Regions from separate parts of the Homo sapiens genome. Here regions 1, 3, 4 and 5 are each linked to region 2. The links come from fine-mapping of genetic effects on gene expression. A gene starts in region 2. Each other region holds a variant in brackets. All regions are shown on one strand. Distances are from middle to middle.

Region 1 (5,104 bases), 46 kb after region 2:
CAACCCTTGTCACCTACTCAAGGGTATCATTCCAGTAATTCTCTCTTCTCTCTTTCAACACTCTCAGGTTTTTCCTCTATTAGACTTGTTCCCAGCAGCATACAAATTTGCTCATGGGTCTGCCTTCTTAAAAAACACCAACACCGGCCAGGCATGGTGGCTCACGCCTGTAACCCCAACACTTTGAGAGGCCAAGGCAGGTAGATCACTTGAGGTCAGGAGTTCAAGACCAGCCTGGCCAACATGGTAAATCCCCATCTCTACTTCAAATACAAAAATTAGCCAGGCGTGGTGGTGCATGCCTGTAATCCCAGCTATTCAGGAGGCTGAGGCACAAGAATTGCTTGAAACCAGGAGGTGGACGTTGCAGTGAGCCAAGATCGCGCCACTGCACTCCAGCCTGCGTGACAGAGCAAGGCTCTGTCTCAAAAAAAAAAAAAAAAAAAAAAAGGAAGGAAAAAGGATGTATCACCTTTGCTATTATGATCACCACGCCTGGGCAACAGAGCAAGGCACCATGTCAAGGAAAAAAAAAAAAAAAAAAACAGGCCAGGTGCAGTGGCTCATGCCTATAATCCCAGCACTTTGGGAGGCCAAGATGGGCAGATCACTTGAGGTCAGGAGTTCGAGACCAGCCTGGCCAACATGGTGAAACCCCATCTCCACTAAAAATACAAAAATTAGCTAGGCATGGTGGCACCCACCTTTAATCCCAGCTACTCGGGAGGCTGAGGCAGGAGAATTGCTTGAACCTAGGAGGCAGAGGTTGCAGTGAGCCGAGATTGTGCCATTGCACTCCAGCCTGTGTGACTGAGCGAGACTCCATCTTAAAAGAAGAAAAAAAAGAAAAAAAACCTAAACACCCACCAACACCAATGAAATGAAAAAACAATGTTTCCATCTCACGACTCCTTCCCTGGTAGGATTTACCTGCTTCCTTTTGCTAGTCTAGATTGTGGTTCGCTCCTATTTCTGTTCACCCATTCTCTCTTAAACCCATTCTAATCAGGCTTTTGTCCCAATCAAAACTGCTTTTGTCAAGGTCACCAATGACCTCCACGTGGTTAAATCTCATGGTCTAATCATCTTCTACCTGGCCTGTCAGCAACATCTGACAATAGATCATTCTGTCTTTCTAACAGCCTTTCTTCACTTGATTTCCAGGATGCCCCACTCTCCTCTTTTTCACTTTCCTTACTCCCTGTGCCTTCACAGGCTCCCTTGCTGATCTCTTTCCCAGCCTCCTAATGTTGGAATACTCCAGGGCTCAGTTTTTTCTGGCTAAGAAATATAAGAAAGTACATGGGTCATTTGGCAAGCATTCACTGTATACTCTGCCACACTTTGTAATATTTTATATAGCTAATACATTTACTATGACAGTTGTTTATTGTTTATCTTTCCAAAAGCACTACAAGTGTCACAAAGGCAGGCACTTTTGTTACTTTGTGCTCTGACGTATGTCAAGCGCCTAGAAAAAAGTGCCTGTCACAAAGTAGGTGCTAAATAAGTATTTGTTGGATGAATAAATGTAGCAGGGTGAAGTGGAAATCTAAACTTTTTGTTGTTAACAAAAACAGATATTATTAAAGCTGTCAGCTACTTCTAAGTCTAGTGGTAGCTATTTAGAAGCTACTGTGGTGGTGAGCTTTGTTCAGAGATCAATGATGTGACCTGTTCCTTTTAGTTATGTGGATGTGTGACAAGGAGTGAACACTTATTCTCAGGTTCGATAGAGAATTCACAAATGCAATGCTTTAGGAGCCAGGCTGATACTGAAGAAAGCTAGATATAAGTGACTAGGGCTCTAAGCGAGATCTAAAGTGAGTAAACCCAACTCAGTTCCAATTAACAGAGGCCATGCAGCATGCAGATCCAGTTTTCCCGGGTCGTGTGGAAGCTAGGTTATCTATATTGTTAACTAAAAATCTCTCCATTTTAGAATATTGGCTCGAATCCAGAAAACACTGACAGGAAAACAAATCACAGCTGCAGGCTAGATGTGGCCTGTGACCATCAGTTCACTACCTGTAGTATAATGATA[C/T]TTTGGGGAGCTTATTTTGTGTTCTGGGAAGGAGAGGAAATTTTTTCCAATATAGACCTTAGAAGAAATCTCCTGGGAGAAAAATGGATACAGATATCAACCTCTTCTCTTTTGAGACTCCAGGTTATTACAACATCTTAGAGAGATATAGATATATAGTCTCACTTGAATTCACCTGGAAGGAAAGGAGACCCAGCACCCCAAGAAGCTGGAGCACCTGGGCATATTATAAGGCTCCAGAGGAGTAACATGAGGCCAGAGACTCTCTTGATTCAATCACCATAGCACTGGGGGCATGCTTGGTCAAAATAGCTGTGGAGAAGAGTGTATATTAAAGAAGAGGACTCATCAGTGGCATGATGATCATAATAGTAAAGGCGATATCTCCTTTTTCCTCCTTATGCTCTAAAAAACTGCAGCTCCAACAAGCAGTGGTTAAGGACCGTGGTCATTCCAGCAGTGGACAGTGATGATCTCTGGCGGTGTGAGACTCTGTGTTTCCAGGAACAACAGACTACAGCCAGGGCAGCAACAAAAGACACTAGTTGGTGGGCTGATTACAGTCTCTGCTTCTCTCTGAACTAGTTACATGAAAACAAGACTGACCTCAATAATGAGTGTGTATCCTGAGTTTTAAGGCAGAGGGTAGGGTAGGGTAAACTCCAAAGGGTAATCTTTAAAAAGGTGAAACTGAAATCATAATGATTTAATTTGTATATTAAAGAGAAACATGATTATGGCATAAGAATAGGCAAATAGATTAATGGAACAGAATAGTAAGTCCAAAAATAGACCCAAAAATATACAGTCAATTGAATATTTACAAAGGCACCAAGTCAATTCAATGGGAAAGGGAACTCTTCTAAACAGTTGAGGTTGAAACAGCTATAAAAATGTATGGAAAAAAATAAAGCTTGACCCTACCTCACAGCATAGACAAACATTGGTTTGACATGAATCACAGATGAAATATAAAACATAAAACTACAAAGATCCTAGAAGAAAACATAGGAGAATATCTCTGCAACCTTGCGATAGGCAAAGACTTCTCAGAACACCAAAAGAACTAACCATAAAAGAAAAAAAAGGATAAATTGGGCTTTATCAAAATTTAAAACTTCTGATCATCAAAAGACACCATTAAGATAATTAAAAAGGCAAATTGGGTTTTCAGTCCTGTAGATAAGCACCTTTGAAGTCATTGCTCCATTCCAAAAAGTAAAAAGATGAACAAATTGAAAAATTAATAACTCTTCTTAAACCCATCAGAGAAGTGAGGTCACATGGCAAACTGCTCGCCCAAGCTTGGAGAAACGGACAGATGAATACAGGGAATTACAAGTTCCTGGGACAGAAACCTAGAAGCAGAAATTGCCACAGAAACCAGTCTGAGATAGGAAGACCTGAACTGTAATTGACAAATCAATGGAGGCCCAGTGTAGACAATCCTGAGAGTTAAAAATTCAAGGAGGACCCAGTCATGGAGGAATCCCCACACTTTTGTGAGTTTTACCTCCAAGAGCTCGACCAGATCTTCACAATGCATATTGGAGAAAAATCCCCACCTGCTTCTAGAAGGGGAATGAGGAAAGTATAATTTGAAATATACCAGAGCATTCTGTTTTAACAAGTCCTGACCTCAAGAGAAACTATTTTAAAGAGCCTAAACAATTAGGGCTTTTTTCAGAGGCTAGCCAACCTGGGAAAGGAAAATACTCAACTCCAGCCACTCTAACAATTCTGTCCCACTAAAGGGAGAGAAAAAATTATTATTGTGGAATTCACAGTCCAAAGCACAGACTCATTAAAAGATTGAGAGACCTAATCACAGGACTATTGGATGCTTCCCCTTCCCCCACAACTTACCACTACATTCCTAAAGGCCTATTTACCTCAGTTCCTTTTACCCAATACATCCAGTCCATCTGCCAAGAAAAAGGTAATAGCTGGGCCCAGTGGTGCATGCCTACAGTCCCAGCTACTTGGGAGGCTGAGGTGGGAGAATCATTTGAGCCCAGGAGTTTGAGTCCAGCCTAGGCAACATAACAACACCCCATCTCTAAAAAGAAACAAAGAAAGTAAAAAATTACAAGACACACCATCTTGGTCTGTTTTGTGCTGCTACAATAGAATACCTGAAAGTGATAATTTATAGTATACAAAAATGTACTGGTTTATGGTTCTGGAGGCTAGGAGGTCCAAAATTGAGGGGCTAGCATCTAGTTAGGGCCTACTTGCTGCATCACTCCCTGGCAGAAGGCAAGAGGGCAAGAGAGACAGAATGAAAAGGGGGACTGAACTCCCTTTATAAGGAACCCACTCCTGTGATAACAGCGTTAATCGATTCATGATGGCAGAGACTCATGGCATAATCACATCTCATTAGGCCCCACTTCCCAATACTGTTGCATCAGGGATCAAGTTTCCAACACATGCTTTTTCAGGAACATATTCAAACCATAGCACATTCTAAAAGTCAAGAAACACAGTTTGAAGAAACAGAACAAGCATCAGAACAGAACTCATATATGGAAGGATGTTGGAATTATCAGACCAGGAATTTAAAACAACTATGATTAATGTGCTCAGGGCTCTAATGAATAAAGTTGATAGCATGCAAGAACAGGTAGGTAATGTGAGCAGAGAGATGGAAATTCTCAGAGAGAATCAAAAAGAAATGTTAGAGATCAAAAACACTACCAGAGATGAAGAATGCCTTTGATGGGCTCATTAGCACACTGGACATGACTAAGGAAAGAATCTTTGAGCTTTGGGATATCGCAATAGAAACTTCCAAAACTGAAAACGAGAAAAAGTCTGAAAAAACTCCAGAATATCCAAGAACTGTGGGACAACTGTAAAAGGTATAACATATGTGTAATGGGAATACCAGAAGAAAAGAAAGAGAGAAAGGAACAGAAGCAATATTTGAACGAATGACTGACAGCTTTTCAAAATTAATGTCAGGCACCAAACCACAGATTTGGGAAGCTCAGAGAACACCAAAAAGCATAAATACTAAAAAAGCTATACCTAGGCATATCATATTCCACTGCAGAA
Region 2 (5,104 bases):
TTCTGTTGTAAGAAACATGAGCATTGCCGTAATTTCCCAAACTAACATCTTTAGAAATGAAGTAACTCCTTAACGTAGATGATATATCTTTACCTGAAGATTAACTAAATCCTAAGAAACAATGTATTTTCAAAACATCCATATGACACAGATGTTTTGAGGCACACAAGGAATGGCAGCTGTTAAATGATTTGTCTTAAAGTAAAGGCTGATTCAGCGTCAGTAGCATACAGCGGTTTATGATGCATACAAAATAAAGTTAACAAAAGTCACTCAAAATATATTGACTAGCTACTCTCCTTGTTAGCAAAGTTTATCAAGCTTAAAAGAAAGTTATTGTCTCAGCTTCAGGAGCTTTCAAATCTATATTTCACTGATGGCTACTTTATGAGAAACAGGTCATAAAAGTATATTTAAACTTTACTGTCATACTTCCAATCGTTTTGCTTACAATTGAATCAAAGCTTGAGAATATTTATAGGCTAAAAAATGGGCAAAGAGGTAAAGATAGGGCTATGATTTTACTCAGGAACCTGGGCTTCAAAACCATCAGGAAATCACAGCCCTGTGACCCTCATTTGCTCATGCACTAACAATGTACAACACCATGCATTTTTCCAAGGTTCTTTTCTCTTTTGGCAAGACTAGCATTCTCACATGAAGTGATGAGTCTTTTTCCCTGGAGGTATTCTAACTTTAACTCTTCTCTTCCCTCTCCCACTACACATACCTTGCAAGTGCCCTCCTGAATATAGAATGAAGAGAGAAAGCTGAACAAGACTGGGAAATGTAATGACTGTCACACCATATGCTATAGGTTTACTCATTCAAACACTTGCATTACAAGTTCTTCATCTGCCCTAACTCCCTCGTACTTTTGTATATGTAATAATTTAATAGCTTTCAGAATAAAGAAATTAATAGCATTTTCTTATTATCTGAGTACAATGTTTGCATCAATAGCAACAAATGGCACGGCCAGGAAGTCTTCTTTAAGCATGTTAATCCTTCACATTGCTTAACTTCAAATGATTAGTGTACTTGGCCATGCGTCCACATTAGGTGCTCCTAAGCTTTCCAGTGAAATAAAGTCTTATATAAATGCCTTAAACACAACTTTGCTAACATTCAAATGCAAGCCCTTTCTCACTACGTTCTGTTGATTGCCCTTTCAGTCCCTATACACTGGTAACACAAGCATGTAGCCACATTTTTAAGACTAAGGCAGGCTTCATTTATTTCTTTTAAGCTTAGTTCAGCTCTTTTACTAATATAAATAAATCATCCGTCTTTTCCCCTTTAACAAACAAAAGCAAAGAGATACTTGACCAAGTGTTATCCCCTGACAGTACAGGTTGTTGAGGATCTTTTACCTCCAAAAGCACCAGAGCAGGAATCTGTAAAATCAGCTCCGTTGCTCTTCACGTACCCTGATTTGATATCTTTTTAAAACGGTCTTAAATGTTGTGGTGACTGAAAACAAATGTGGAATAAGAACACCAAATAAATGATTTCCTCTTAGGAAAGGATTCAAGGGCCAAATAAACCTAGAGTTTAATACATAGTCTGGAAGATATTTCTGAAGCCGAGGGTGGGGGATCTGGCGGCGGGGCGGGGGAAAGACAGTAAATTGGTAAGATAACCAAATGTTAGGTAGCGGTTGAAGGCAAGTTTGGGGTGGGGGGTGAGAAGAGGGGAGGCCAAATACGCCCAGGAAATAAAGGAGATAACGAGTCAGGACTTCCTGCAGTTTCAGTTCGGTTTGGGTTTTGTTTTGTTTGTTTTGCAGCCTCACGCTCTCTACTGAGTCCCCACATCTCTGAGGGTCTCCCTAAATGAGTTTCTCCCCATCTGTAACTTTCGGGCAGTTACAAAGCACGCCAGTGTTCCTCTTTTGCTTCGCCCCTCTCCGGGGCGGGAAGGGAACGGCATGACATTGTCCTTTTTGCCGCTGATGAAATCATCCTGCAAGTGCTAGGATGAAGTGCGAGCGAAGCTGCGGCCAACGCCGCGCTTTCCAAAGCCAGGCCAACATTACTAAGAGGGAAATTCTGCTTTAGCTGCCGGGAATCCCCAGGGGTATCTCTAGAAACGCGGGATATCCCCGCTGCTCTCTTGGCGGCCAGTTCAGAAACCGCTCAGAACTCAGTCCAGGGCAGGTACTGGAGGGCGAAGTGCGCCGGGCGGGGGCGGCACTGACCCCGAGGCGGCGGGAGCGGCGAAGGCGCCGGCGTCCCCACCCGCATCCTGCACCTGCCTCGCTCCCAAGCCCTCCCGGTCCCCGGTCCACACCCGCGCCGGAGCGCGCCGGCTGGGGCAGGAAACCCGACTCGCGCGGGCGGGCTGCGGTCGGGGATCCCCGCGCGCTACAGGGAGAGGGCCCGGGGCGCGCCCCTTGGGGCCCCGACCGCGGCAGCCAGCCTGGTGCACGGGTCAGGGTGCTCCCCAGGCCCCCGGGCGGGCGGGCGTACCTCGGATGTAAGCGCACTTGCCCTCGTCCAGCTGGCTGGAGGCTGAGCCGCCCATGACCGCGAGCTGCCTGTGCTGAGCGCGGAAACTGCCCGGTCCGCGCCCGCTGCTAGCTCCTGGAGGTTGATCCGACGGCGAACCCGGCTCTGAAATTAAGAGCAAACTTCCTTCGAGAGGCGAGAGACAGGAGGCAAGAGGCGTCGCCTTCTGGGGCGCCTCCTCCAGGTCCGCGCCTTCTGATGATCCGTGGGCCGGCCCGGGGGCTGTCTTCCCGCCCTCGCCTAGCTGGTGAGCTCCGACGGGCTGGCAACCGAGGAGGTCGGCCAGCTCCTCCTCCTCGCCCACGGTCACTTCTTGTTTTCATCCCTTTGGGGCATCCAAGAAACACCTTGGAGGAAGTGGACCATTTCTCAAGTGACTAAATCTCTGTGAGCTGGAACTTTCCCAGCTCACATCCTTCGAGGTGGAGCTCAAGATCACGTTGCCTTGTAAGTGTTGCTGTCCAAGAAGCAACAGTTCTTCCCAAGCATTACCTGGGAGCCTGTTAGAAATACAAAATCTCAGCGCTTTCGTCCACCACCCCTCTACACACACACAGACACACACACACTTAGAATCTGTGGGAGTGGAGCCCAGCAATCTGTGTTTGCACAAACCCTCCAGGGAATTCTGATGCCCGCTGAAGTTTGAGAACTAGAGGTAAACTATACCTTTCTGCAGGCGAGAACCTGGACCAAGGAGGGAGTGGGGAAATGAGGAAAAAAGGAAAGAGAAAAAAAAATGGAAAGACAGGGAAAAACTAAGGCTTGGTCCTGCAATATACTCCCAGCCCTGAAACTTCCTAAGACTTGATGAACGTCTGTCCTTACCCCTTTACTTTCCATTCCTCTCCTTAACTGGAAATCAATCATTAGAAAAGATATTTGTTCTTTTCCCACAACCACTATTTAGCTTGGCAGCCTCTCGGAACAAGACCCACTTGGGCAGAGGGGTCACCGCTGATTTCATCCTATTCTTAGTAGTCAGTTATTTTGCGACTCCTATTGACTTAACCTCAAGGTCAAATGGTCTGTATACACTAGAACCAGGCCTGAGGAGGACTTTGAAGGCTTTCCCACACACCCCCGCCTTCCCTATTAGCTAACTTGCACTTTAACACAATTATTTCATCACACTCACACCCAATCTCTCACACTCTACATTCCAATCTGTCAGTAAATCCTGTCAATTCAGCTTTTAAATATGTCCAATAGCCAACCAATTCTCATCCCCTCTACTGACATCCCATATCATTCCTCACCTTATTCATTACACTAGCTGCCTAACTGATCTACCTTCTTCAGAGAAAAGCCACGACGTCTATCAGGGCCTAGGTGGAGTTTCCTCTGTGATCTTCTCTACCACCACTCCTTGTTCTCTCTGTTCCAGCCCTACTAGCCTTTTTTTTTACTCTTTCTGAGACACATCAAGCTCAGGGCCTTTGCACTTGTTTTTCATTTCTGTAGGATGCTCTTCCTTCAGATATTCACATAGGTTACTCTCTCAGTCATTTCATTCAAGCCTCCACTTTAATGCTAGTAATTCAGAGAGGTTCTCCTTGACCCAGGAACACCAGCCATCACCTCTCTCTGCCACTTGCTCTTCATTATTTCTGTTTCATATCACTTAGTATCATCTAACACATATTTCTTTGTCTATCTTCCCCCACTGCGATGTAAACTCTATAAGATCAGGGATTTTCTTTGTTGTTATTGTTGTTTCTTGGGGCTTTTTCCCTCAAAATTTCTGTTTCCTTTTTTATTATTATTTTTCCTCTTATGGCAGGGATTTTTTTGTCTATTCTGTCCTCTGCTGTATTTCAAATGCCTAGAAGAGCACCTAGCATGTAGTAGGTGTCCAGTAGATAACCACTGAATAAGTGAATGAATGAAAAATAAAATGTAAAAATCTGTACTCAACAAAAACTGTGATCTCAAGCATTTCCAGATAACAACTCAATGATTTAAAATATTTAGTGTTGAACTCTTCTCTCAATACTCTAGTTGGCTCCTAGAATTAAGTGTATCTTCTTGGAGAAGTAATTTCTTTGACTATATAAATTGCTATAACTGTGCCTCAGAATACTGTTATTGTTATTGAAGAAAACTAGCTTGGATCTCCTGCCAGAAGTGTAGTTTTAGCTTGTCACCTCTACTTCAGGAATACTCTGAGAAAGGACTGATTATCCTCATCTACCCTTATCCACTCATTTGTAAATATTCACGGATGAAACAGAGTACAAAGATGGATTCACACAAACAAATGGAAAAACATTCAATGCTCATAGATAAGAAGAATCAATATTGTTAAAATGGTCATACTGCCCAGAGCAATGTACAGATTCAAAGCTCTTCCTATCAAACTACCAAAGACATGCCTCACAGAATTAGAAAAAAACTATTCTAAAATTCAGATGAAACTAAAAAAGAGCCTGAATAGCTAGTGCAATCCTAAGCAAAAAGAACAAAGCTGTTGGCATGGCATGATCTGACTTCAAACTATACTAGAAGGGTACAGTCACCAAAACAGCATAATGCTGGTACAAAAACAGTATACCAAAAATATTGGACAAAAACAGATACATAGACCAATGGAA
Region 3 (5,101 bases), 180 kb before region 2:
GAAACCACTCAAATGACACATACAAGTCTGTATGAAAAGCAAAACAAACTCATGGTGATATGCAGTTATTCCATTCAACATGTTAAAATGAAGACAGAGTATTTTAAATGCACTCTAGTTTCCTGTTCCATCTTCAAATTAAACAATCATCCTGCTTATTCTAGAAAACTTTTTTTTTTTTTTTGAGACAGGGTCTCATTTTGTTGCCCAAGCTGGAGTGCAGTGGTAAAATCATAGTTCACTGCAGCCTCAACTTCCCTCGCTCAAACAATCCTCCTGCCTCAACCACCCAAGTAGCTAGGACTGCAGGCACACACCATTATTATTTTTTGTAAGGATGAGATCTTGCTATGTTTCCCAGGCTTGTCTAGAACTCCTGGGCTCAAGTGACCCTCTCACCTCAGCCTCCCAAAGTGCTGGGATTATAGGTGTAAGCTACCACATCCAGCCCAAAAACTTGTCTTTAGTGAAATATGTACAGAAAATTCTTTGATTATATTCTGGAGTACATCCTGCCAAATAGTGCCCAGTCCTCCCTGACCTACATGATGGATAAAGTTAGGGCACTGATGTTCATCCATCCAATGCAGTGAAAGGTACTCTCTTTTAGGGTTGAAAAAAATCTCTTAGCTTTCCAGGGGGTGCAAGAAGCCCTGCATTGAGCAAAGAAAGGAAGCTAGGAAGCTCCGGTGTGAGGTCAGCCTGGGCTGGGACTCCACACTACTGTCCCAGGGAGTCGGGCAGCCTTTGTGGGGCTGGGCACTGCCTCTTTGGCTTCCTGCCTTACTGGGCAGTGCATCTGGCCATCTGCCCCTTGGACTTTGGACTTTACTTAAGAGAAAACTCAACAAGGGCAGAAAGCCCAATTCAAAACGTCTTTCTGCCTGACAGCAGGCCCCAAATAGCCCCAGCACAGCAGTGTTCTGGGTGTCCAGTTCCCACATTTCCCGAGCAGCCTGACGCATGCCAGGTCCTATGCACCAGGGATATTAAAGTGACTCAAGGAGGCAGGAAGCCATTATTCAAGGCTGTGGGTTTCTAGCAGGAAGCACAAATGATGACTAAACCCTAGTTTCTGTCTTTTAAGAGAGGAGCCACTTGGAGAGACAAGAAGTAAACCTAATTTCAACACACCATGCTAAATGCCAGGATATGAGTGAGCACTGCAGAAAGCAGAGACTGGGGGAGAAGTGGTCTTTACTTCCTTCACCTGTGGTGGGATCCCTCAAAGACATGAGGATTTAAACACGCCAAGAAAAGTTGCAACAATTAAATATGATATTATACATATACTGAGTATTATTCATGTTTATGACCTAGAAATTCTTCATGGGAGGGCTGAAAAGGGTGATATTTTAATTTCTGGTTAAATGGTTGAACTGTGTGTGAAGCAAATGCTCTAAAGAACTGACATAAATTTACTCGATAGTGATGATCTAAACAAGTTCTCAACAAATATGTTGAGATCTGATGTTAAAATTTGGGGAGGGGCCAGGTAGCTCACGCTGTAATCCCAGCACTTTGGGAAGTCGAGGTGGGTGGATCGCTTGAAATCAGGAGTTTGAGACCAGCCTGGCCAACATGGTGAAAACCCATCTCTACCAAAAATACAAAAATTAGCCGGGAATGGTGCCGCATGGCTGTAATTCCAGCTACTTGGGACGCTGACAGAGGAGAATCTCCTGAACCCAGGAGGCGGAGGTTGCAGTGAGCCGAGATCACACCACTGCACTCCAGCCTTGGCGACAGAGTGAGACTCCATCTCAAAAAAATAGAATAAAATAAAATAAAAAGTCGGGGAGGGAAACCACGATGTAATACTTGGGACTGGAGATTTTAGGAAATGATCTGGTATTTTTCTGAAGGAGAAAAGAACAACTCCTTTTAATCTTTTGGAAGCAAGTCTCTTCCATTTTCAACATTAATGGTTATAGGTCACCATCCGTTAAGAAGATGTGTTTTGTCTATTTCCATTAAAATGTAAGTTCTAGGAGGAAGGAACAAAGTTGTTTTTCGCCATGGTATCCCCAGTGCTTGGTATATAACAGAGACTCAATTAGCTTGCTGAATGACCAAACAAATGATTTCAGCTTTTGATAACATCTTTGGAACTTGAGAGCATACACCTTGGCTTTTGTCTTTATTCATTTATTTATTTATTCATTCATTTTGTGCCCTTCTGGGAATGAACCAGGACTATTTGAATGGAAAGAGAAAAAAAAAAGCTGTCATAGTTTAAAAATTGGCATATGTTCTCTTCCAGATTAAATTCCCTTGGACCTTTTAATTTATGCTAGAACAAGCACTTATCTTTTCTTTTTTTTATTACTAAGCCCAACACAGTGCGTGGCATGCAGTAACTGTTCAAATAATGTTTGTTTAATTGACGGGTTTTAAGCTCGATAACTTAGCTAAGCCCTTTGCACAGTCTAAGCCTAATTTGGAATGCTTTCAGTCTTACCCAGGCCAATAAAATTTTCTTGCCTCATCTGAATTTCCTGCAAATGTGATTAATTAATAAGAATCATCAAGATTAATTAATAAGAAATTGATAGCAGGATGAGTAACAGGCCCAGACAGTCCCACAGATCACACCTTCCACCCTCCATTTCCGCTTAGCTTCTCTTGAATCTATTGGGCATGATTGCCTCTGTGGGGGCTACAGCCAGCA[C/T]GGGTGACTGTTCATGACCTACCCTCTCTTGCAGTCTGACTGTGGACAAATGCCGAGTCCTTAAGAGATGGTGAAGTAGGCATAGTAGATAGTAAAGGTAGACTTACAGTATACATTTGCATTCTCAAACAAAATTAAAAAGCCTTAAAGTGCACAAGAAGATTGCACAATTGAAAAGTGCAGAGTATACTCAAAACTGTCATCCTACTGTTTTCTCAGTCTTCCCTGCAATACTATTCCCTCCTCAGACATCCTCAGCTCCCTCTCACCCCAAGTATGCCATTGTCTTTGTAATTCTTATTAAAATACTAAAGCAAAAATTCATCGTAGAACAATTCATGTCCACAAAGGTTTGCCTCAGTTGCTCATGCCCTGTATGCATTTCCTCTGGTTTTATTATTCAAATTAAGAAAATACTTAAAAATTTTTTGGTAACAGCTTGCATGCAACCCCTAAGTGTACCCCTATAACCCTTTGGCTTTTTTCAGAGAAAGACTTCAGCCAAATTGTCCCTTTCACTCCTCTGAGGGCAGCTCTGGGAAACTCTCCTGACCACCTTCTCCCTCCTTCACGTCATCTTTGTGTGACAGCAGGACATCCGGGTTTGGAGCATCCTCCACCACCCACTGACACTCATGAATACGGGCTACCTTGATCTCCTCTGCATTCACACTGGCCGTGGCCTGGGCCGCGCTGCTTTGCCCTCCCATCTCTTCTTGTTCCTCAGAAACCTGGCTCTCACTGAGGCAGATGGGGTCAGAACCTAAGGTGCAGCCCTCTTGCTGTGAGGCATCCCCTTCCTCGGTACACTTGCCCCCTCTTCCTTCATGGGCAGTGAGTGTGCAGGCCTCTCCTGGGAGCTCCCCCTCCATGGGCCCCAGGGGCTCCTCGGTGAGCCCTCCACTGGCTGGCGGAGAGGCTGGGCTGCCTACCTCTGGAAATCCCCCCAACTCCTCCCCATGGGCCTCGGGACAGGGAGGTTGGGCCTCCCTCTCGCTGACTTCACTTTCTTCACAGTTGTCGGGGTGGATGGCAGCTGCCTGACTGGGCTCTTTTTCCTCTTCTTCTTCATTTTCTTGGGGAACGTGGCTCTCCCCATTCGTATCTTCTTCCATCACTGGAGCAGAGTCCACTGGTACTTCCACGGACGCTGTCAGCAACTTTCTGAGCGCCTTCAAAGAACCCGAGGCAGTGATGGGTTCTGGCTCTTCCTGGGCGGGTTCTTCATCCTCAAGGGTCCCTCCAAACTCCAGCTCTGATGAGCATGTGCCCGGGAGTCCTGCTGTGTCCTCTGTTGCCACAGGATTCACCACGGGGTCATCCACTCTTGAAATAATCACCTGCTCAGTCCCATCTGGGGGTGGGCTTGGCCCAGGGAGAGAAAGGCTTTCTCCTTTGGCCAACGAGCTAGGGACCTCAGGCTGCTTCTCTTCCTCTGACTCCTGGAATACTTCGTTACTGAGGGTCTCACTACCCAGAACTCCTGGCAGAATGGCAGAAGCTCTCCTGGCAGGGCTGGCCTGGTTTGACCCTGTGGGGGGCTTTAGATCTGTTAAGCTGGACACACTTTCACTGGGCAAGGCCATGTTATCTTCAAATAAGTTGTGTTTCTTCAAGATAGCAGCTTCCTTTATCACTGAGAGATATCAGAAAACAAAACATGATTTTCTGATTTTATTGAGAAGCCAAAGTCCCCTTTCAGCCTCTCTGGCTATCCAAATTTCTCCATTTCAAGACCCAGCTTACATCCAGGGAGCCTTCCCTGATGACCAAAGTCTATAAACTCTTTCCAAACTCTGAGCCTCTGTAGCATTCATTCATTCATTTATTCAAACAGCAAACATTTGCAGGACATTTAACATGGGACAGGCCCTGGGAATCCAGAGATGAATAAACTATAGCCTTTGTTTTCAAGACACTCAGGGTCTGCAGTAGTGTCACCTGTATCCCTCAGGGAGGCCCCAGCACATTTTATTAGCTGCTAAGATGGGTGGCTCCAGTTTGTCCACCTGGACTGAAATCCTCTAGGGCAGGGCCAGGCCTTACACTTATCTGCTTTACCTTGCAGTACAGTCCTGAATGTGTAATAGGTACTCGGTACTGCACATGCAGAGGAGAGGGCCAAAATGAAGATCCATGTGCATCTAGCTCAGTTTCAAAGGCCTCCAGAGGGGCAAATCCAATAACAACAACAACAACAGCAGGTGACATTTTTGACCACAGGCCTCCTACTTATGGCTGTGCAGGGGCTGTAGTGCCCAAAAATATCACATCTCAGGGGTGCCATTCATATCAAAGACAGAACAGATTTGTGTATTCGGCATAACTTTTCAGCATCTAGCTGCAGAGTTTCCTTCTCTAACAAAATCAATATATTGTGACAATTTTCTAACAGACAGCAATAAAGTGTCTGGAGGAAAGGAGTCTTTT
Region 4 (5,104 bases), 110 kb before region 2:
AAAAAAAAAAAGAATGCTCAGTATCACTAATCATCAGAGAAATGCAAATCAAAATCACAATGTGATACCATCTCACACCAGTCAGAATGGCTATTACTAAAAAGTCAAAAAATAACAGATGCTGGTGAGGTGCAGAGAAAAGGGAATGCTTATACATGGTAGATAGGAATGTAAGTTAGTTCAGCCACTGTGGAAAGCAGTCTGGAATCAGCCTTGGTGCCCATCAACAGTGGGCTGGGCAAAGAAAATGTGGTATATATACACAATGGGATACTACACAGCTATTAAAAAAAGAACAAAATCATGTCCTTTGTAGCAACATGGAGGAAGCTGAAGGCCATTATAAGCAAATTAACACAGGAGCAGAAAACCAAATACCTCATGTTCTCACTTATAAGTGGGAGCCACACATTGAGTACCAATGGACATATAGATGGCAACAATACACGGGACTATAGAGGTGGGGGAAGGGTACAGAGTTGAAAAACCTAACTATTGTATACTATGCTCAGTACTTGGGTAACGAGACCATTCATACCCCAAACCTCAGCATCACACAGTATACCAATGTAACAAATCTGCACACGTACCCCCAAATCTAAAACAAGCTGAAAAAAAATAATTTTTAAACAAAAAGAAAGGATGCTTAATGGGTCACAGCCAACAAAACAGTGACTTAAATAATGGCATCATGCAACACATTTCACTTTGTCTGGTCAGTCTCAGTCAGAAATCTAACTGCTAAGATTGATTTTCATTAATCATCCAAATAATAAGCCAAAAATACTGTTTTATGTAAAGGAAGGCTTAAACACAAATGATAGTAGGCGATGAGGAGCATGAGAAAAAAAGTTGTAAAGCTGATGGAAAATGAAAAATAAACAAGTAACTGCACAGATAGTCAAAAAAGAAAGCAAAATCTTCCAAAGAAATTGCCTTTGCTGTTAACAAGTAAAATAGACCTTTCTCCTAAACAATCCGGAATGCTTTATTAACTATTCTTATCATTTCCAGATGCTTTTTCAAATGATGACCTACTTCCCATGCTCCTTTATTCAGTTAAAAAAAAATGAGTATGTGCTTACTACACCCCTACACTCAGTACTAATGGCTGAGATGTAATAGTAGATGGGCATAGACTTGGCTTCTAGGAACTCCTAGTTTTAGGAGTCAGATAAATAAATAGTCAATGATGACATGATGTGATTAGAACTGTGATGGAAGTAAGGACAGGTACGAGAGAAGGAAGGACAGATGAATGGACAGATAGAAGAAAATTGTGGGGCTTTCACCTACCTGAAAGATTAAGAAAGGTGTTCTGGTGGAAATGACATTTAACCTAAGGCCTTCAGAAAATCAAATTTAGGAGTCCAAAAGTGAGCTATTGGCTTAGGATTTAGTTCTAAGGGCTGAAAGATGCAGAGGGAATTGAAAATAGTGTTATAATTCTAGGATGTGTTCTTTGGAGGAAAGTTAAGAAGACACGAAATGTAATTTTAAGATGATAATGTGTAACAATCCACTTAACCCAACTGTCAGCTCCCTATAATAATATTTCAATTTCAAATCTGTTCCCTTCTCTTAAGTTATGAAATTCACATTTCCAGAGACATCTAAATTAGATCATAAGTTTCTTAGATTCCTGACCTGGTAAAAAATATACATGGTATGAAGAGAACAGTACTGTGTTCATTTAAAGCCACCAAATATGGAACTAGAAATCAGAAGAAAACCAGAGATGGCAAAATTTAGACCAATGGCAACTCACTCATCTATGCTGGTAATTTCACTACCCTTCATCCTGACCAAACCCAATCATAAATGTCAATCAGCCTATCTCAAAATTAGTGATATTTAGAACTTCACCTAGCAATTCTAGAAAGCTTTTGGCTTGCAAGGTATCTATGAAAGAAAGAGTGGAAGTTTTGCACCCCTTTCATCTAATCAAAATTCAAAATTTCTTCCCCCTTCTATTGTTATTCATTTATGAGCACAGATGTGCAAAAACCAATTCATTTTAAAGTCAAATACTAAATATGATGACTTACATCTGTACAAAAATCTGAAGTGCAGTACCGATACTAATGCGGTGACATCAGCAAGGCCAAACAGGAAGCTGAGGTATAGCCCCCATCACACACAGACACTCTCTCTCGGTCTCTCTCTCTCTCTCTCTCACACACACACACCCCTACACACAAACACACACACACACACACCCCAAAAGTGTCTCAGCTATAATATTGCATTCACTTAACGAATAGCCTTATTGCAAAACTTTGTGGTTTGTGACTAGGGTCTATTGTGCCAGGAAAAA[T/C]ATCTCCCTCTGTGCATGTTAAGCTTCTTCTGACAAGAAGCACTAGAAAGATACAAACCACCTATGTTCTTAGCAAGAATGACTCATTATTATTGGCACAAGGAGAATACAACTTTGTGGTAAGGCTTTTTGTTCTCAACTTGAAAATACCTAATCTGATATCCTAAAGCCTGGAGAAGAAAAAAAGAAGGATATCTTCAACTATTATCCTCCTCACTAGGGATTTAAGAAGGAAAGGACAATGGCTAAGGTGTGTGATAAGGTTACATCCTGCTTGACCCACCGTGTTTCCTGGAACAGAACCACTTGGGCTTGGGCCCGAGTTCACTTAAAGTGAGATGGAATGAGGCAAAATGATGTTCCTGATCTATTTTCTATTTCTTTTATTCCACTTATCCTGGAAAGTCAGGAGGAAATCATCCTCAAACTCTCCTCTGTTAACTGAGTGGGATAGCCTTACAAATTGAGTTTGGTTTATAAGCAATGACTGTGTTTTCGGTTTGTTTTGCCCCCAGCATCTAAGACAATGTTCTGGACACAGTAGACCCTTACCTTAATAGAGGCTCTTTTGTTCCAGCTTTTGTCTACCCCGTCACTTAAAGTGTCCCGTGTCACACAACGGGACAGTGTGGCAGTCTAATAGTTTCTAGGGAAAGGTGGGGAAGGAAAAAACAACAAATGAAGAGAAGTCTCAGTTCCTTTCTTAGCTGGTGATTGCATGAGCCATGCCCTGATCTCCCACCAGAAAGGAACTTGGCAGGGAGGGGCTTTGTCTGGTAAGATGTGAAAATGGGTGCTTTGCTTTCATTGCTCCTTCCTAACTTCCAACTTCCTTCTTTTTTACCTCCTTTTCTAAGCCTCTTAAAATAGAAATGTCCCACTAACACCCAGACGTTGTTGACTTGCAATATGATTTGTGGTCTCCAAAAGAAAATGCTAAAAAATTGTTTTAAAAAATTCAGGTCAGATCAGGACTTCCCCAACCCCCTCAGCAACAGCCAGTATGGGAATCCAGTTAACAAAAGAAAATGCTGAAAGGAAAAAAAAATAAAGGCTAAGTACTTAAAACACAAAGAACTGGTAATAGATAAGTACCATGAATTTTTCAACCCCACCCCTGCAACATATCCCACAAAATTATTCTCAGCTGTACATTTGCATAAACCAAGAAAATTCTAGCTTTGGAGAACATTTATAGAGTACACAGTTTACCACAGGAACACCCTTTTGGGTTAAGGCACAACTTCATGTTTAAAAGCAGAGAAAAGACTTAACTTCTGCATCTCAATTGTCACCTGAGTTTCAATTGATGTAGCAGCTCATGTCCCTCTCAAGTAGATATCAAGAAATTATCCATGTCAAGTTCAGTAGGAAGTGAGTATCCTCAAATCATCTGTTCCTGAATAAGGAATGAGATTAGATTTTTTTTAAAAATATCAGCTAGTCAAACACAGGGCACACAGTATGCGTTTAATAAGTACCTGCTGACTGAGAAGACACATGGTACAGTAGTTTAGAACACGGGCTTGAAGTCGGCCTGCTTGGCTTTAAAATCTTGTCCTGATCACCAGCTGTCTTACCAGCTGCCCCAGAACCCTCGTCTATAAAATGGGCATGATGACAATAATAGTGCCTACCTCACAGGACTGCTGTGAGGATTAAATGAGTTAATACAGTGGCTTTCCAAGTAGGGTCCCCAGGCCAGTAGTATCAGCATCAGCATTACCTGAGAACATGTCAGAAATGCAAATTCTTAGGACCCACCCCAGGCCAGGGAATTCCAGTGCATATTCAAGCAAGGGAAACAGACTAAATAATTTTAGGCATATTGCTTTCCTCTGGGATTTTATGGTCATGTCTAAGGGAAAGGTGGTACATTGCCTCTCACTCGGACAGAAGAAGGGGATAAAAGTAGAAGAGAAGAGAGGTATTTTATCTTACTAGTGGAGATCATCCATGTACACCTACACACGGTACAGCTTACCAGAGTGAGCTCTTACGTAAAATTAGATCGTCCAGTATAAAAAGCGAAAGGGTCACACTGGAAATGCAAAACTCAGTAAAGAAAATGTATCTCAGTTGTGCTTGCTATTAGATTCAGGATTATTTTCAAAAAGGAAATCCCATGAAGAGTCTAGTTGTGGTCCTCTCACTAAAATATTATAAAGAGTTTAATTTTATCTTACAATTGCTAAGCACATTGTGACCATTCACTACTTTTATTTGCATTCACTACTTTTTTTTTTTTTGAGACAGAGTTTCACTCTGTTTCCCAAGCCGGAGTGCAGTGGCTCCATCTCGGCTCACTGCAACTCCACCTCCCATGTTCAAGCGATTCTCCTGCCTCAGCCTCCTGAGTAGCTGGGATTACAGTTGTGCGCCACCATGCCCGGCTAATTTTTGTATTTTTAGTAGAGATGGGTTTTCACCATGTTGGCCAGGCTAGTCTCAAACTCCTGACCTCAAATGACCCACCCACCTTGGCCTCCCAACGTGCTAGGATTACGGGCGTGAGCCACTGCGCTCGGCCCACCATTCACCACTTTTTTATTGTGCTGTTGAATATCACTTCAAACATTAAATTCATATTATAAAAATCATGAATCTTTACCAGTAATACAATTTGAGAAAAATAAAAATTAAGTTGCTGAAGCAAAATACCTTATGTTTAAAAGGAAGACCCTAGGCAACAACGATTCTCTAACTCTGAAGGGATGCTGTTTAAAATGTACGTTTCTGGGCTCCTTTCCTCAGAGATTCTAATTCGTAGGTCTGGAATAATGCCAG
Region 5 (5,104 bases), 40 kb before region 2:
CACTTATTGTGTACTTTATTTCTATTATTATTACATTGTAATATATAATGAAGTAATTTTGCAACTCACCATAATGTACAATTAGTGGAAGCCCTGAGCTTGTTTTCCTGCAACTAGACGGTCCCATCTGGGGGTGATGGGAGACAATGATAGATTGTCAGACATTAGTTAGATTCTCATAAGGATCATGAACTTAGATCCCCTGCATGCACAGTTCACAGTAGAGTTCGTGCTCCTATAAGAATCTAATGCTGCCGCTGACCTGACAGGAGGTGGAGCTCAGGTGGTAATGCAAGTAATGGGGAGCGGCTGTAAATACAGATGAAGCTTCGCTTGCTCATCTGCTGCTCACCTCCTGCTATGAGGCCTGGTTCCTAACTGGCCACAGACGGTACTGGTCCATGGCCTGGCGGTTGGGAACTCCTGGTCTAGAACACATGGAAAGTCATAGGCTCACATATTCTTTTCTTTTGTATATTTGACTTATTTGACTTAAATTTTGATTTTTTAAAAGCTTAAAAGTTATGAATAATGTATAACATAATATTTAACAAAGACAAGATTTAGGCATAAGCAAAGAAAAAACTATCTCCTTCTCTATTCCTTGTTAGTGCCAGTCTCTCTGCATCTATTTTCTTTAGTGAGTAGAAAAACTATCTGTTTATCCCAGCCAAAGATTGCCTACAACCCTTCTGACAAAAAAGAGAAACACGACAGATGGCAATTATAATGGTAAACTCTCAATAATGCAGAAAGCATAACAAAAATCTCCTCCTCCTAAATTTGACTAGAGACACAAAAATTAAAGAGTAATTAGATAAAGTGCAAGCTCTCAGTCTAACAATGAAAGCACTTTCAATACTCACAGAATATTCCCAACTTACATTTCACTCTTACTTCTACTACTTCCCTACACTCCCACCAAAGTAGACTGCCATTCTGACAGCATGACCTACACCTTACCATCCCTGCTATGCCCCTGCTGCAGTGCCCTTTCTCAAAGTCCAGTTCAACCTTTCAGAATCCTGTCCATCCTTTAAGGTCCATTCACTCAACATATATCCACTACAGTCTATTTATAAAATACTAAGGACAGGAAAAGTAATTCAGAAGGTCCCTGCCCTGAGGAGCCACCAGTCTGACCTATCTTAATTGCTACATTTTCCGCAAAGCCCTTTTGGATCTGCCAAACCACCTGTGATCTCTTCTTCCTTTTAAACCCCTTCTCTGGTATTTAAGAATCTCTGACCAATCCCCTACTATGAATCAGGGATAGTGCTGGGCACTTTCACATGCATTTATATCATTTACTCCACACCACATCTTCATACACAAATAAGGCCTCCATAGACCCCTGGGCATGTAAGAAAACTGATGTTCATAAGTTCACATCCATGGCAAATGCCTTGTTAGGAAATGAAATGTAGTTTTATCAACTTTTGTATCTGCGGCTATTTCCATCAATATTACAGCAGCACCCACTTCATCTTATTATTATTTGTGTGGTTATCTTACTTTCTCTATTACAATGACATTTTAAAACAAGAATTGAATCTTATACAGTCTAACATAAGTTTCAACACTCGCTATAGAAATGCCTGGTTTATAGCAGCTACTCAAAGAATGTTTCATAAGAAAGTTGTGTTCCAAGTATTCTGGTGAATGCCAATGCTGGTTCACAATGATGGGGGTCTGAGAACCAACTGACCTCCCTGACATTGTGTGAAGCAGGAACATACCGAACCTTTACTGGAAGTTGGAAGAGGAAGATGAGAGCTGTGAGGGATCTCAGAATGCATATGGGAAATCATGGGTTCAAGAAAGAGGCAATAAAAGAATGGAATCAACCTAGGTGCCCATCAACAGTGGATTGGATAAAATGTGGTACATATACACTATGGAATACTATGCAGCCATAAAAAGTAACAAAATTATGTCCTTTGCAGCAACATAATTGCAGCTAGAAGCCATTATCCTAAGCGAATTAATGCAGGAACAGAAAACCAAATACCACATATTCTTACTTATAAGTGGGAAGTAAACATTGAGTACTCATGGACATAAAGATGGCAACAATAGACATTGGAAACTACTAGAGGGAGAAGGAAGGGAGGAGGGCAAGTGTTAAAAAAACTATTGGATACTATG[C/T]TTACTCTCTGGGTGATGGGATCAATTGTACCCCAAATCTCAGTATTATGCAATATACCATGTAACAAACCTGCACATCTACCCCTTGAATCCAAAATAAGAGTTGAAATTGACCTGGCTCAGGGGCTCACACCTGTAATCGCAGCACTTTGGGAGGCCAAGGTAGGAGGATCACTTGAGGCCAGGAGTTCAAGACCAGCCTGGACAACACAGTAAGACTCCATCTCTACAAAAATAAATAAATGGCCACTAGCAGTGGCTCACGCCTGTAATCCCAGCACTTTGGGAGGCTGAGGCGGGTGGATCACGAGGTCAGGAGTTTGAGACCAGCCTGGCCAATATGGTAAAACCCTGTCTCTACTAAAAATACACAAGTTAGCCGGGCATGGTGGCGCATGACTGTAGTCCCAGATACTTAGGAGGCTGAGGCAGGAGAATCGCTTGAATCTGGGAGGCAGCGGTTGCAGTGAGCCAAGATCATGCCACTGCACTCCAGCATGGGAGACAGAGAGACTCCATCTCAAAAAATAAATAAATAAATAAATAAAAATTAGCCGGGCATGGTGGCATGCACCTGCAGTGCCAGCTACCCAGGAGGCTGAGACAGGAGGATCACTTAAGCCGGGGAGCTCAAGGCTGCAATGAGCCGTGGTCACACCACTGCACTCCGGCTTGGGTAACAGAGCAAGAATCTGTCTCAAAAAAAGGAAAATCAATTTGAAATTTATTTTTAGACCATCATTTAATAGCAGACATTTTTTTTTTAAGTTTTAGCAAATGTCACATACTACAGCTGTCATACAATCAAAGCTTCTGTCTGTGAGGTAGAGATTTTCAGAGGGAAATAAAAAATAAGATCCGAGGCTGGGAATCGTGGTTCACCCAGCACTTTGGGAGGCTGAGGTGGGAGAATCACTTGAGTCCCAGCAGTTCGAGACCAGCCTGGGCAATGCAGTGAGACCCTGTCTATACAAAAAATAAAAATAAAAAAGCTGGGCACAGTGGCAAGCACCTGTAGTCCCAGCTACTCAGAAGGCCAAGGTGCGAAGATCACTTGAGCCCAGGAGGTTGAGGCTGCAGTGGGCCATGATTGTGCCACTGCCCTCCAGCCAGGGTGATAGAGTGAGACCCTGTCTTAAAAATAATAAGATCCAGCAAATAAAAGAAAGGGGCAATAATCTAACGTTGATCTGATTGAGCTTGGAAGGTCTAAAGCAAGCAACATTTAATACATAGAAATATATATATTTTTTTAAATGTGAAAATAAAAGGGGGATGAAAATTTGCAAAAATTCAGACTGGCTTGATCAAGCTTTGTTCACAGTTCTGAGTACAACATAGGTACCTGGGAAAAAGAAAGCCTAGTTGGGTAAATTTCAAGGTCTGAATCTAGGGACACCAACTAAGTCAAGAGTTAGGGTTTTTTTTTTTTTAAGTTTTGACTTAAAATCCAGAATGAAAACCAATCCTTTTCCAGGAACCTACATAGCTGAGAGAGCTCAACTTGGATTTCATGTTAGAAGAGTTTCCCTGGGACAAACGGGAGACAGGCTCACAGGTGAAGGCAAATGCAGACTAGTGAGAGAGTTGCAGGATTTCAGAGCTGACGAACCACAGCTATATCTAACCCAACCTATTTTTGTGATAGATGAAAAAAAAAAAAAAACAGGGGAAACTAAGCGTCTATTGAAAGGTTTACACTTATGCTAAACTAATTAAGTAACATGAGCTTGCCACTCAGAACTGACCTCATCCAAACATAACTGTGTTCCCAGATTCCATCACCAGACCATGAAAGCCATATGTACTCCAAAAGAGTGCTTATGTGCTCTGCTTGGACTATGATAGATGCTGGAAATGGAGGATCCTGAGGGAAAAAGAACAACAGGAGAACTCACAGATTCCGGGAGTGTAGTTTCAGCAGCAGACAGTCTCCCAGGTTTTGATCCCCTGGAGAGTGAAGGAGCAAGCTTTCCAAGGGAAGTGGGGAGGAACAGCCATCCAAAGGAGCTCTCTGTCAGGCCTCATATTTCTCATGTTCCTGTATTGTTGCCTCCTGGTGAGTTTTCTGCCACTGCTATACGAAATTACCATAAACTTCATTGCTTAAAAAGAACAGAAACTTCCTCTGCAGTCCTGGAGGCTAGAAGTCTAAGTCAGTATCACTGGGATGAAATCAAGGAGTTAGCAGGCCCACCTGCCCTCTGGCAGGGCCATTCCCTTCAGAGGCTCCACTCCTTGCCTATTCCAGCTTTGGTAGCTACTGGGACTCCTGGGCTTGTGGCTGCATCACTCCATATTGCTTCAGTCTTCACACTGCGTGCGTGCGTGTGTGTGTGCGTGTGTGTGTGTAACCTCCCTCTGCTTTTCTCTTATAAAGATATATGTGATTGCATTTAATCCCCTAATCTCAAGTTCTTTAACTTAATCACATCCTCAAAGACACTTTTTTCCAAATAAGGTAACATTTACAAGTTCCAGGGATTAGGACCTGACATCTTTGGGGAGCATTCTTCAGCCCACTACCCCACATTAATAAAACTCATCCCCATGATTAATATAAAGATGTTTTCAAGTAAAGAAACTGAGGGACTTATATGAAGTCACACTACAAGACTCTTCTCCATCCTATCCCTTTCCTCCTATGCTCCTTTCTTCCTTATACGGGCGCATTTCTTTATAAGAAATTAATAAGTTCATCCAAGGAAGCAATAAATATTATGTAATACTGAGGACCTTGGTATTCATTGCTGACTTCTGTTAATAGCTGGATTCTTTTTTTTTTTTTTTTTTTTTTTGAGAGACAGGTTCTTGCTATGTTGCCCAGGTGGAGTGCAGTGGCTATTCATAGATGCAATCACAGTGTACTACAACCTTTAACTTCTGGGTTCAAGCAATGCTCCTGCCTCAGCCTCTAACTAGCTGGGACTATAGGTGTGTGCCATTGTGCCTGGCC

Direction of the effects. Alleles are on the strand shown, and positions count from the first base shown. SD is a standard deviation of normalised expression in the study named. Not every link is listed here.
For the expression in monocytes after R848 of the gene that starts at base 2,678 in region 2, T is the high allele of the variant in region 1 and C is the other (moderate effect, 0.60 SD a copy in Quach 2016).

Evidence for each region. PIP is the estimated chance that this variant, and not a neighbour inherited with it, causes the effect. A credible set is the group of variants that fine-mapping cannot tell apart.
Region 1: its variant is the best candidate, but not a certain one, in a credible set for the expression of NIBAN1 in monocytes after R848 (Quach 2016, PIP 0.80).
Region 3: its variant is the best candidate, but not a certain one, in a credible set for the expression of NIBAN1 in whole blood (TOPMed, PIP 0.83).
Region 4: its variant is the best candidate, but not a certain one, in a credible set for the expression of NIBAN1 in whole blood (TOPMed, PIP 0.51).
Region 5: its variant is the best candidate, but not a certain one, in a credible set for the expression of NIBAN1 in whole blood (INTERVAL, PIP 0.54).

Annotation. Positions count from the first base shown.
Region 1 is chr1:185,018,154-185,023,257 of GRCh38, forward strand. No RefSeq gene overlaps it. Among named protein-coding and RNA genes, the nearest start is that of LINC01633, 19 kb to the left of the region's middle. The variant C/T (reference allele first, on the strand shown) is at 2,045.
Region 2 is chr1:184,971,831-184,976,934 of GRCh38, forward strand. It overlaps NIBAN1 (niban apoptosis regulator 1), which reads right to left and starts at 2,678. Exons shown (of 14, transcript NM_052966.4): 1 at 2,472-2,678. The coding sequence starts at 2,526. RefSeq lists an enhancer at 1,863-2,032 and a silencer at 2,143-2,462.
Region 3 is chr1:184,791,791-184,796,891 of GRCh38, forward strand. NIBAN1 (niban apoptosis regulator 1) reads right to left here. Exons shown (of 14, transcript NM_052966.4): 14 at 1-4,307. The coding sequence ends at 3,187. Among named protein-coding and RNA genes, the nearest start is that of EDEM3, 39 kb to the left of the region's middle. The variant C/T (reference allele first, on the strand shown) is at 2,672.
Region 4 is chr1:184,864,995-184,870,098 of GRCh38, forward strand. All of the region lies in intron 5 of NIBAN1 (niban apoptosis regulator 1), which reads right to left. Among named protein-coding and RNA genes, the nearest start is that of NIBAN1, 110 kb to the right of the region's middle. The variant T/C (reference allele first, on the strand shown) is at 2,318.
Region 5 is chr1:184,932,223-184,937,326 of GRCh38, forward strand. All of the region lies in intron 1 of NIBAN1 (niban apoptosis regulator 1), which reads right to left. LOC124904469 (a long non-coding RNA gene) reads right to left here. Exons shown (of 2, transcript XR_007066770.1): 2 at 1-5,104. Among named protein-coding and RNA genes, the nearest start is that of NIBAN1, 40 kb to the right of the region's middle. The variant C/T (reference allele first, on the strand shown) is at 2,149.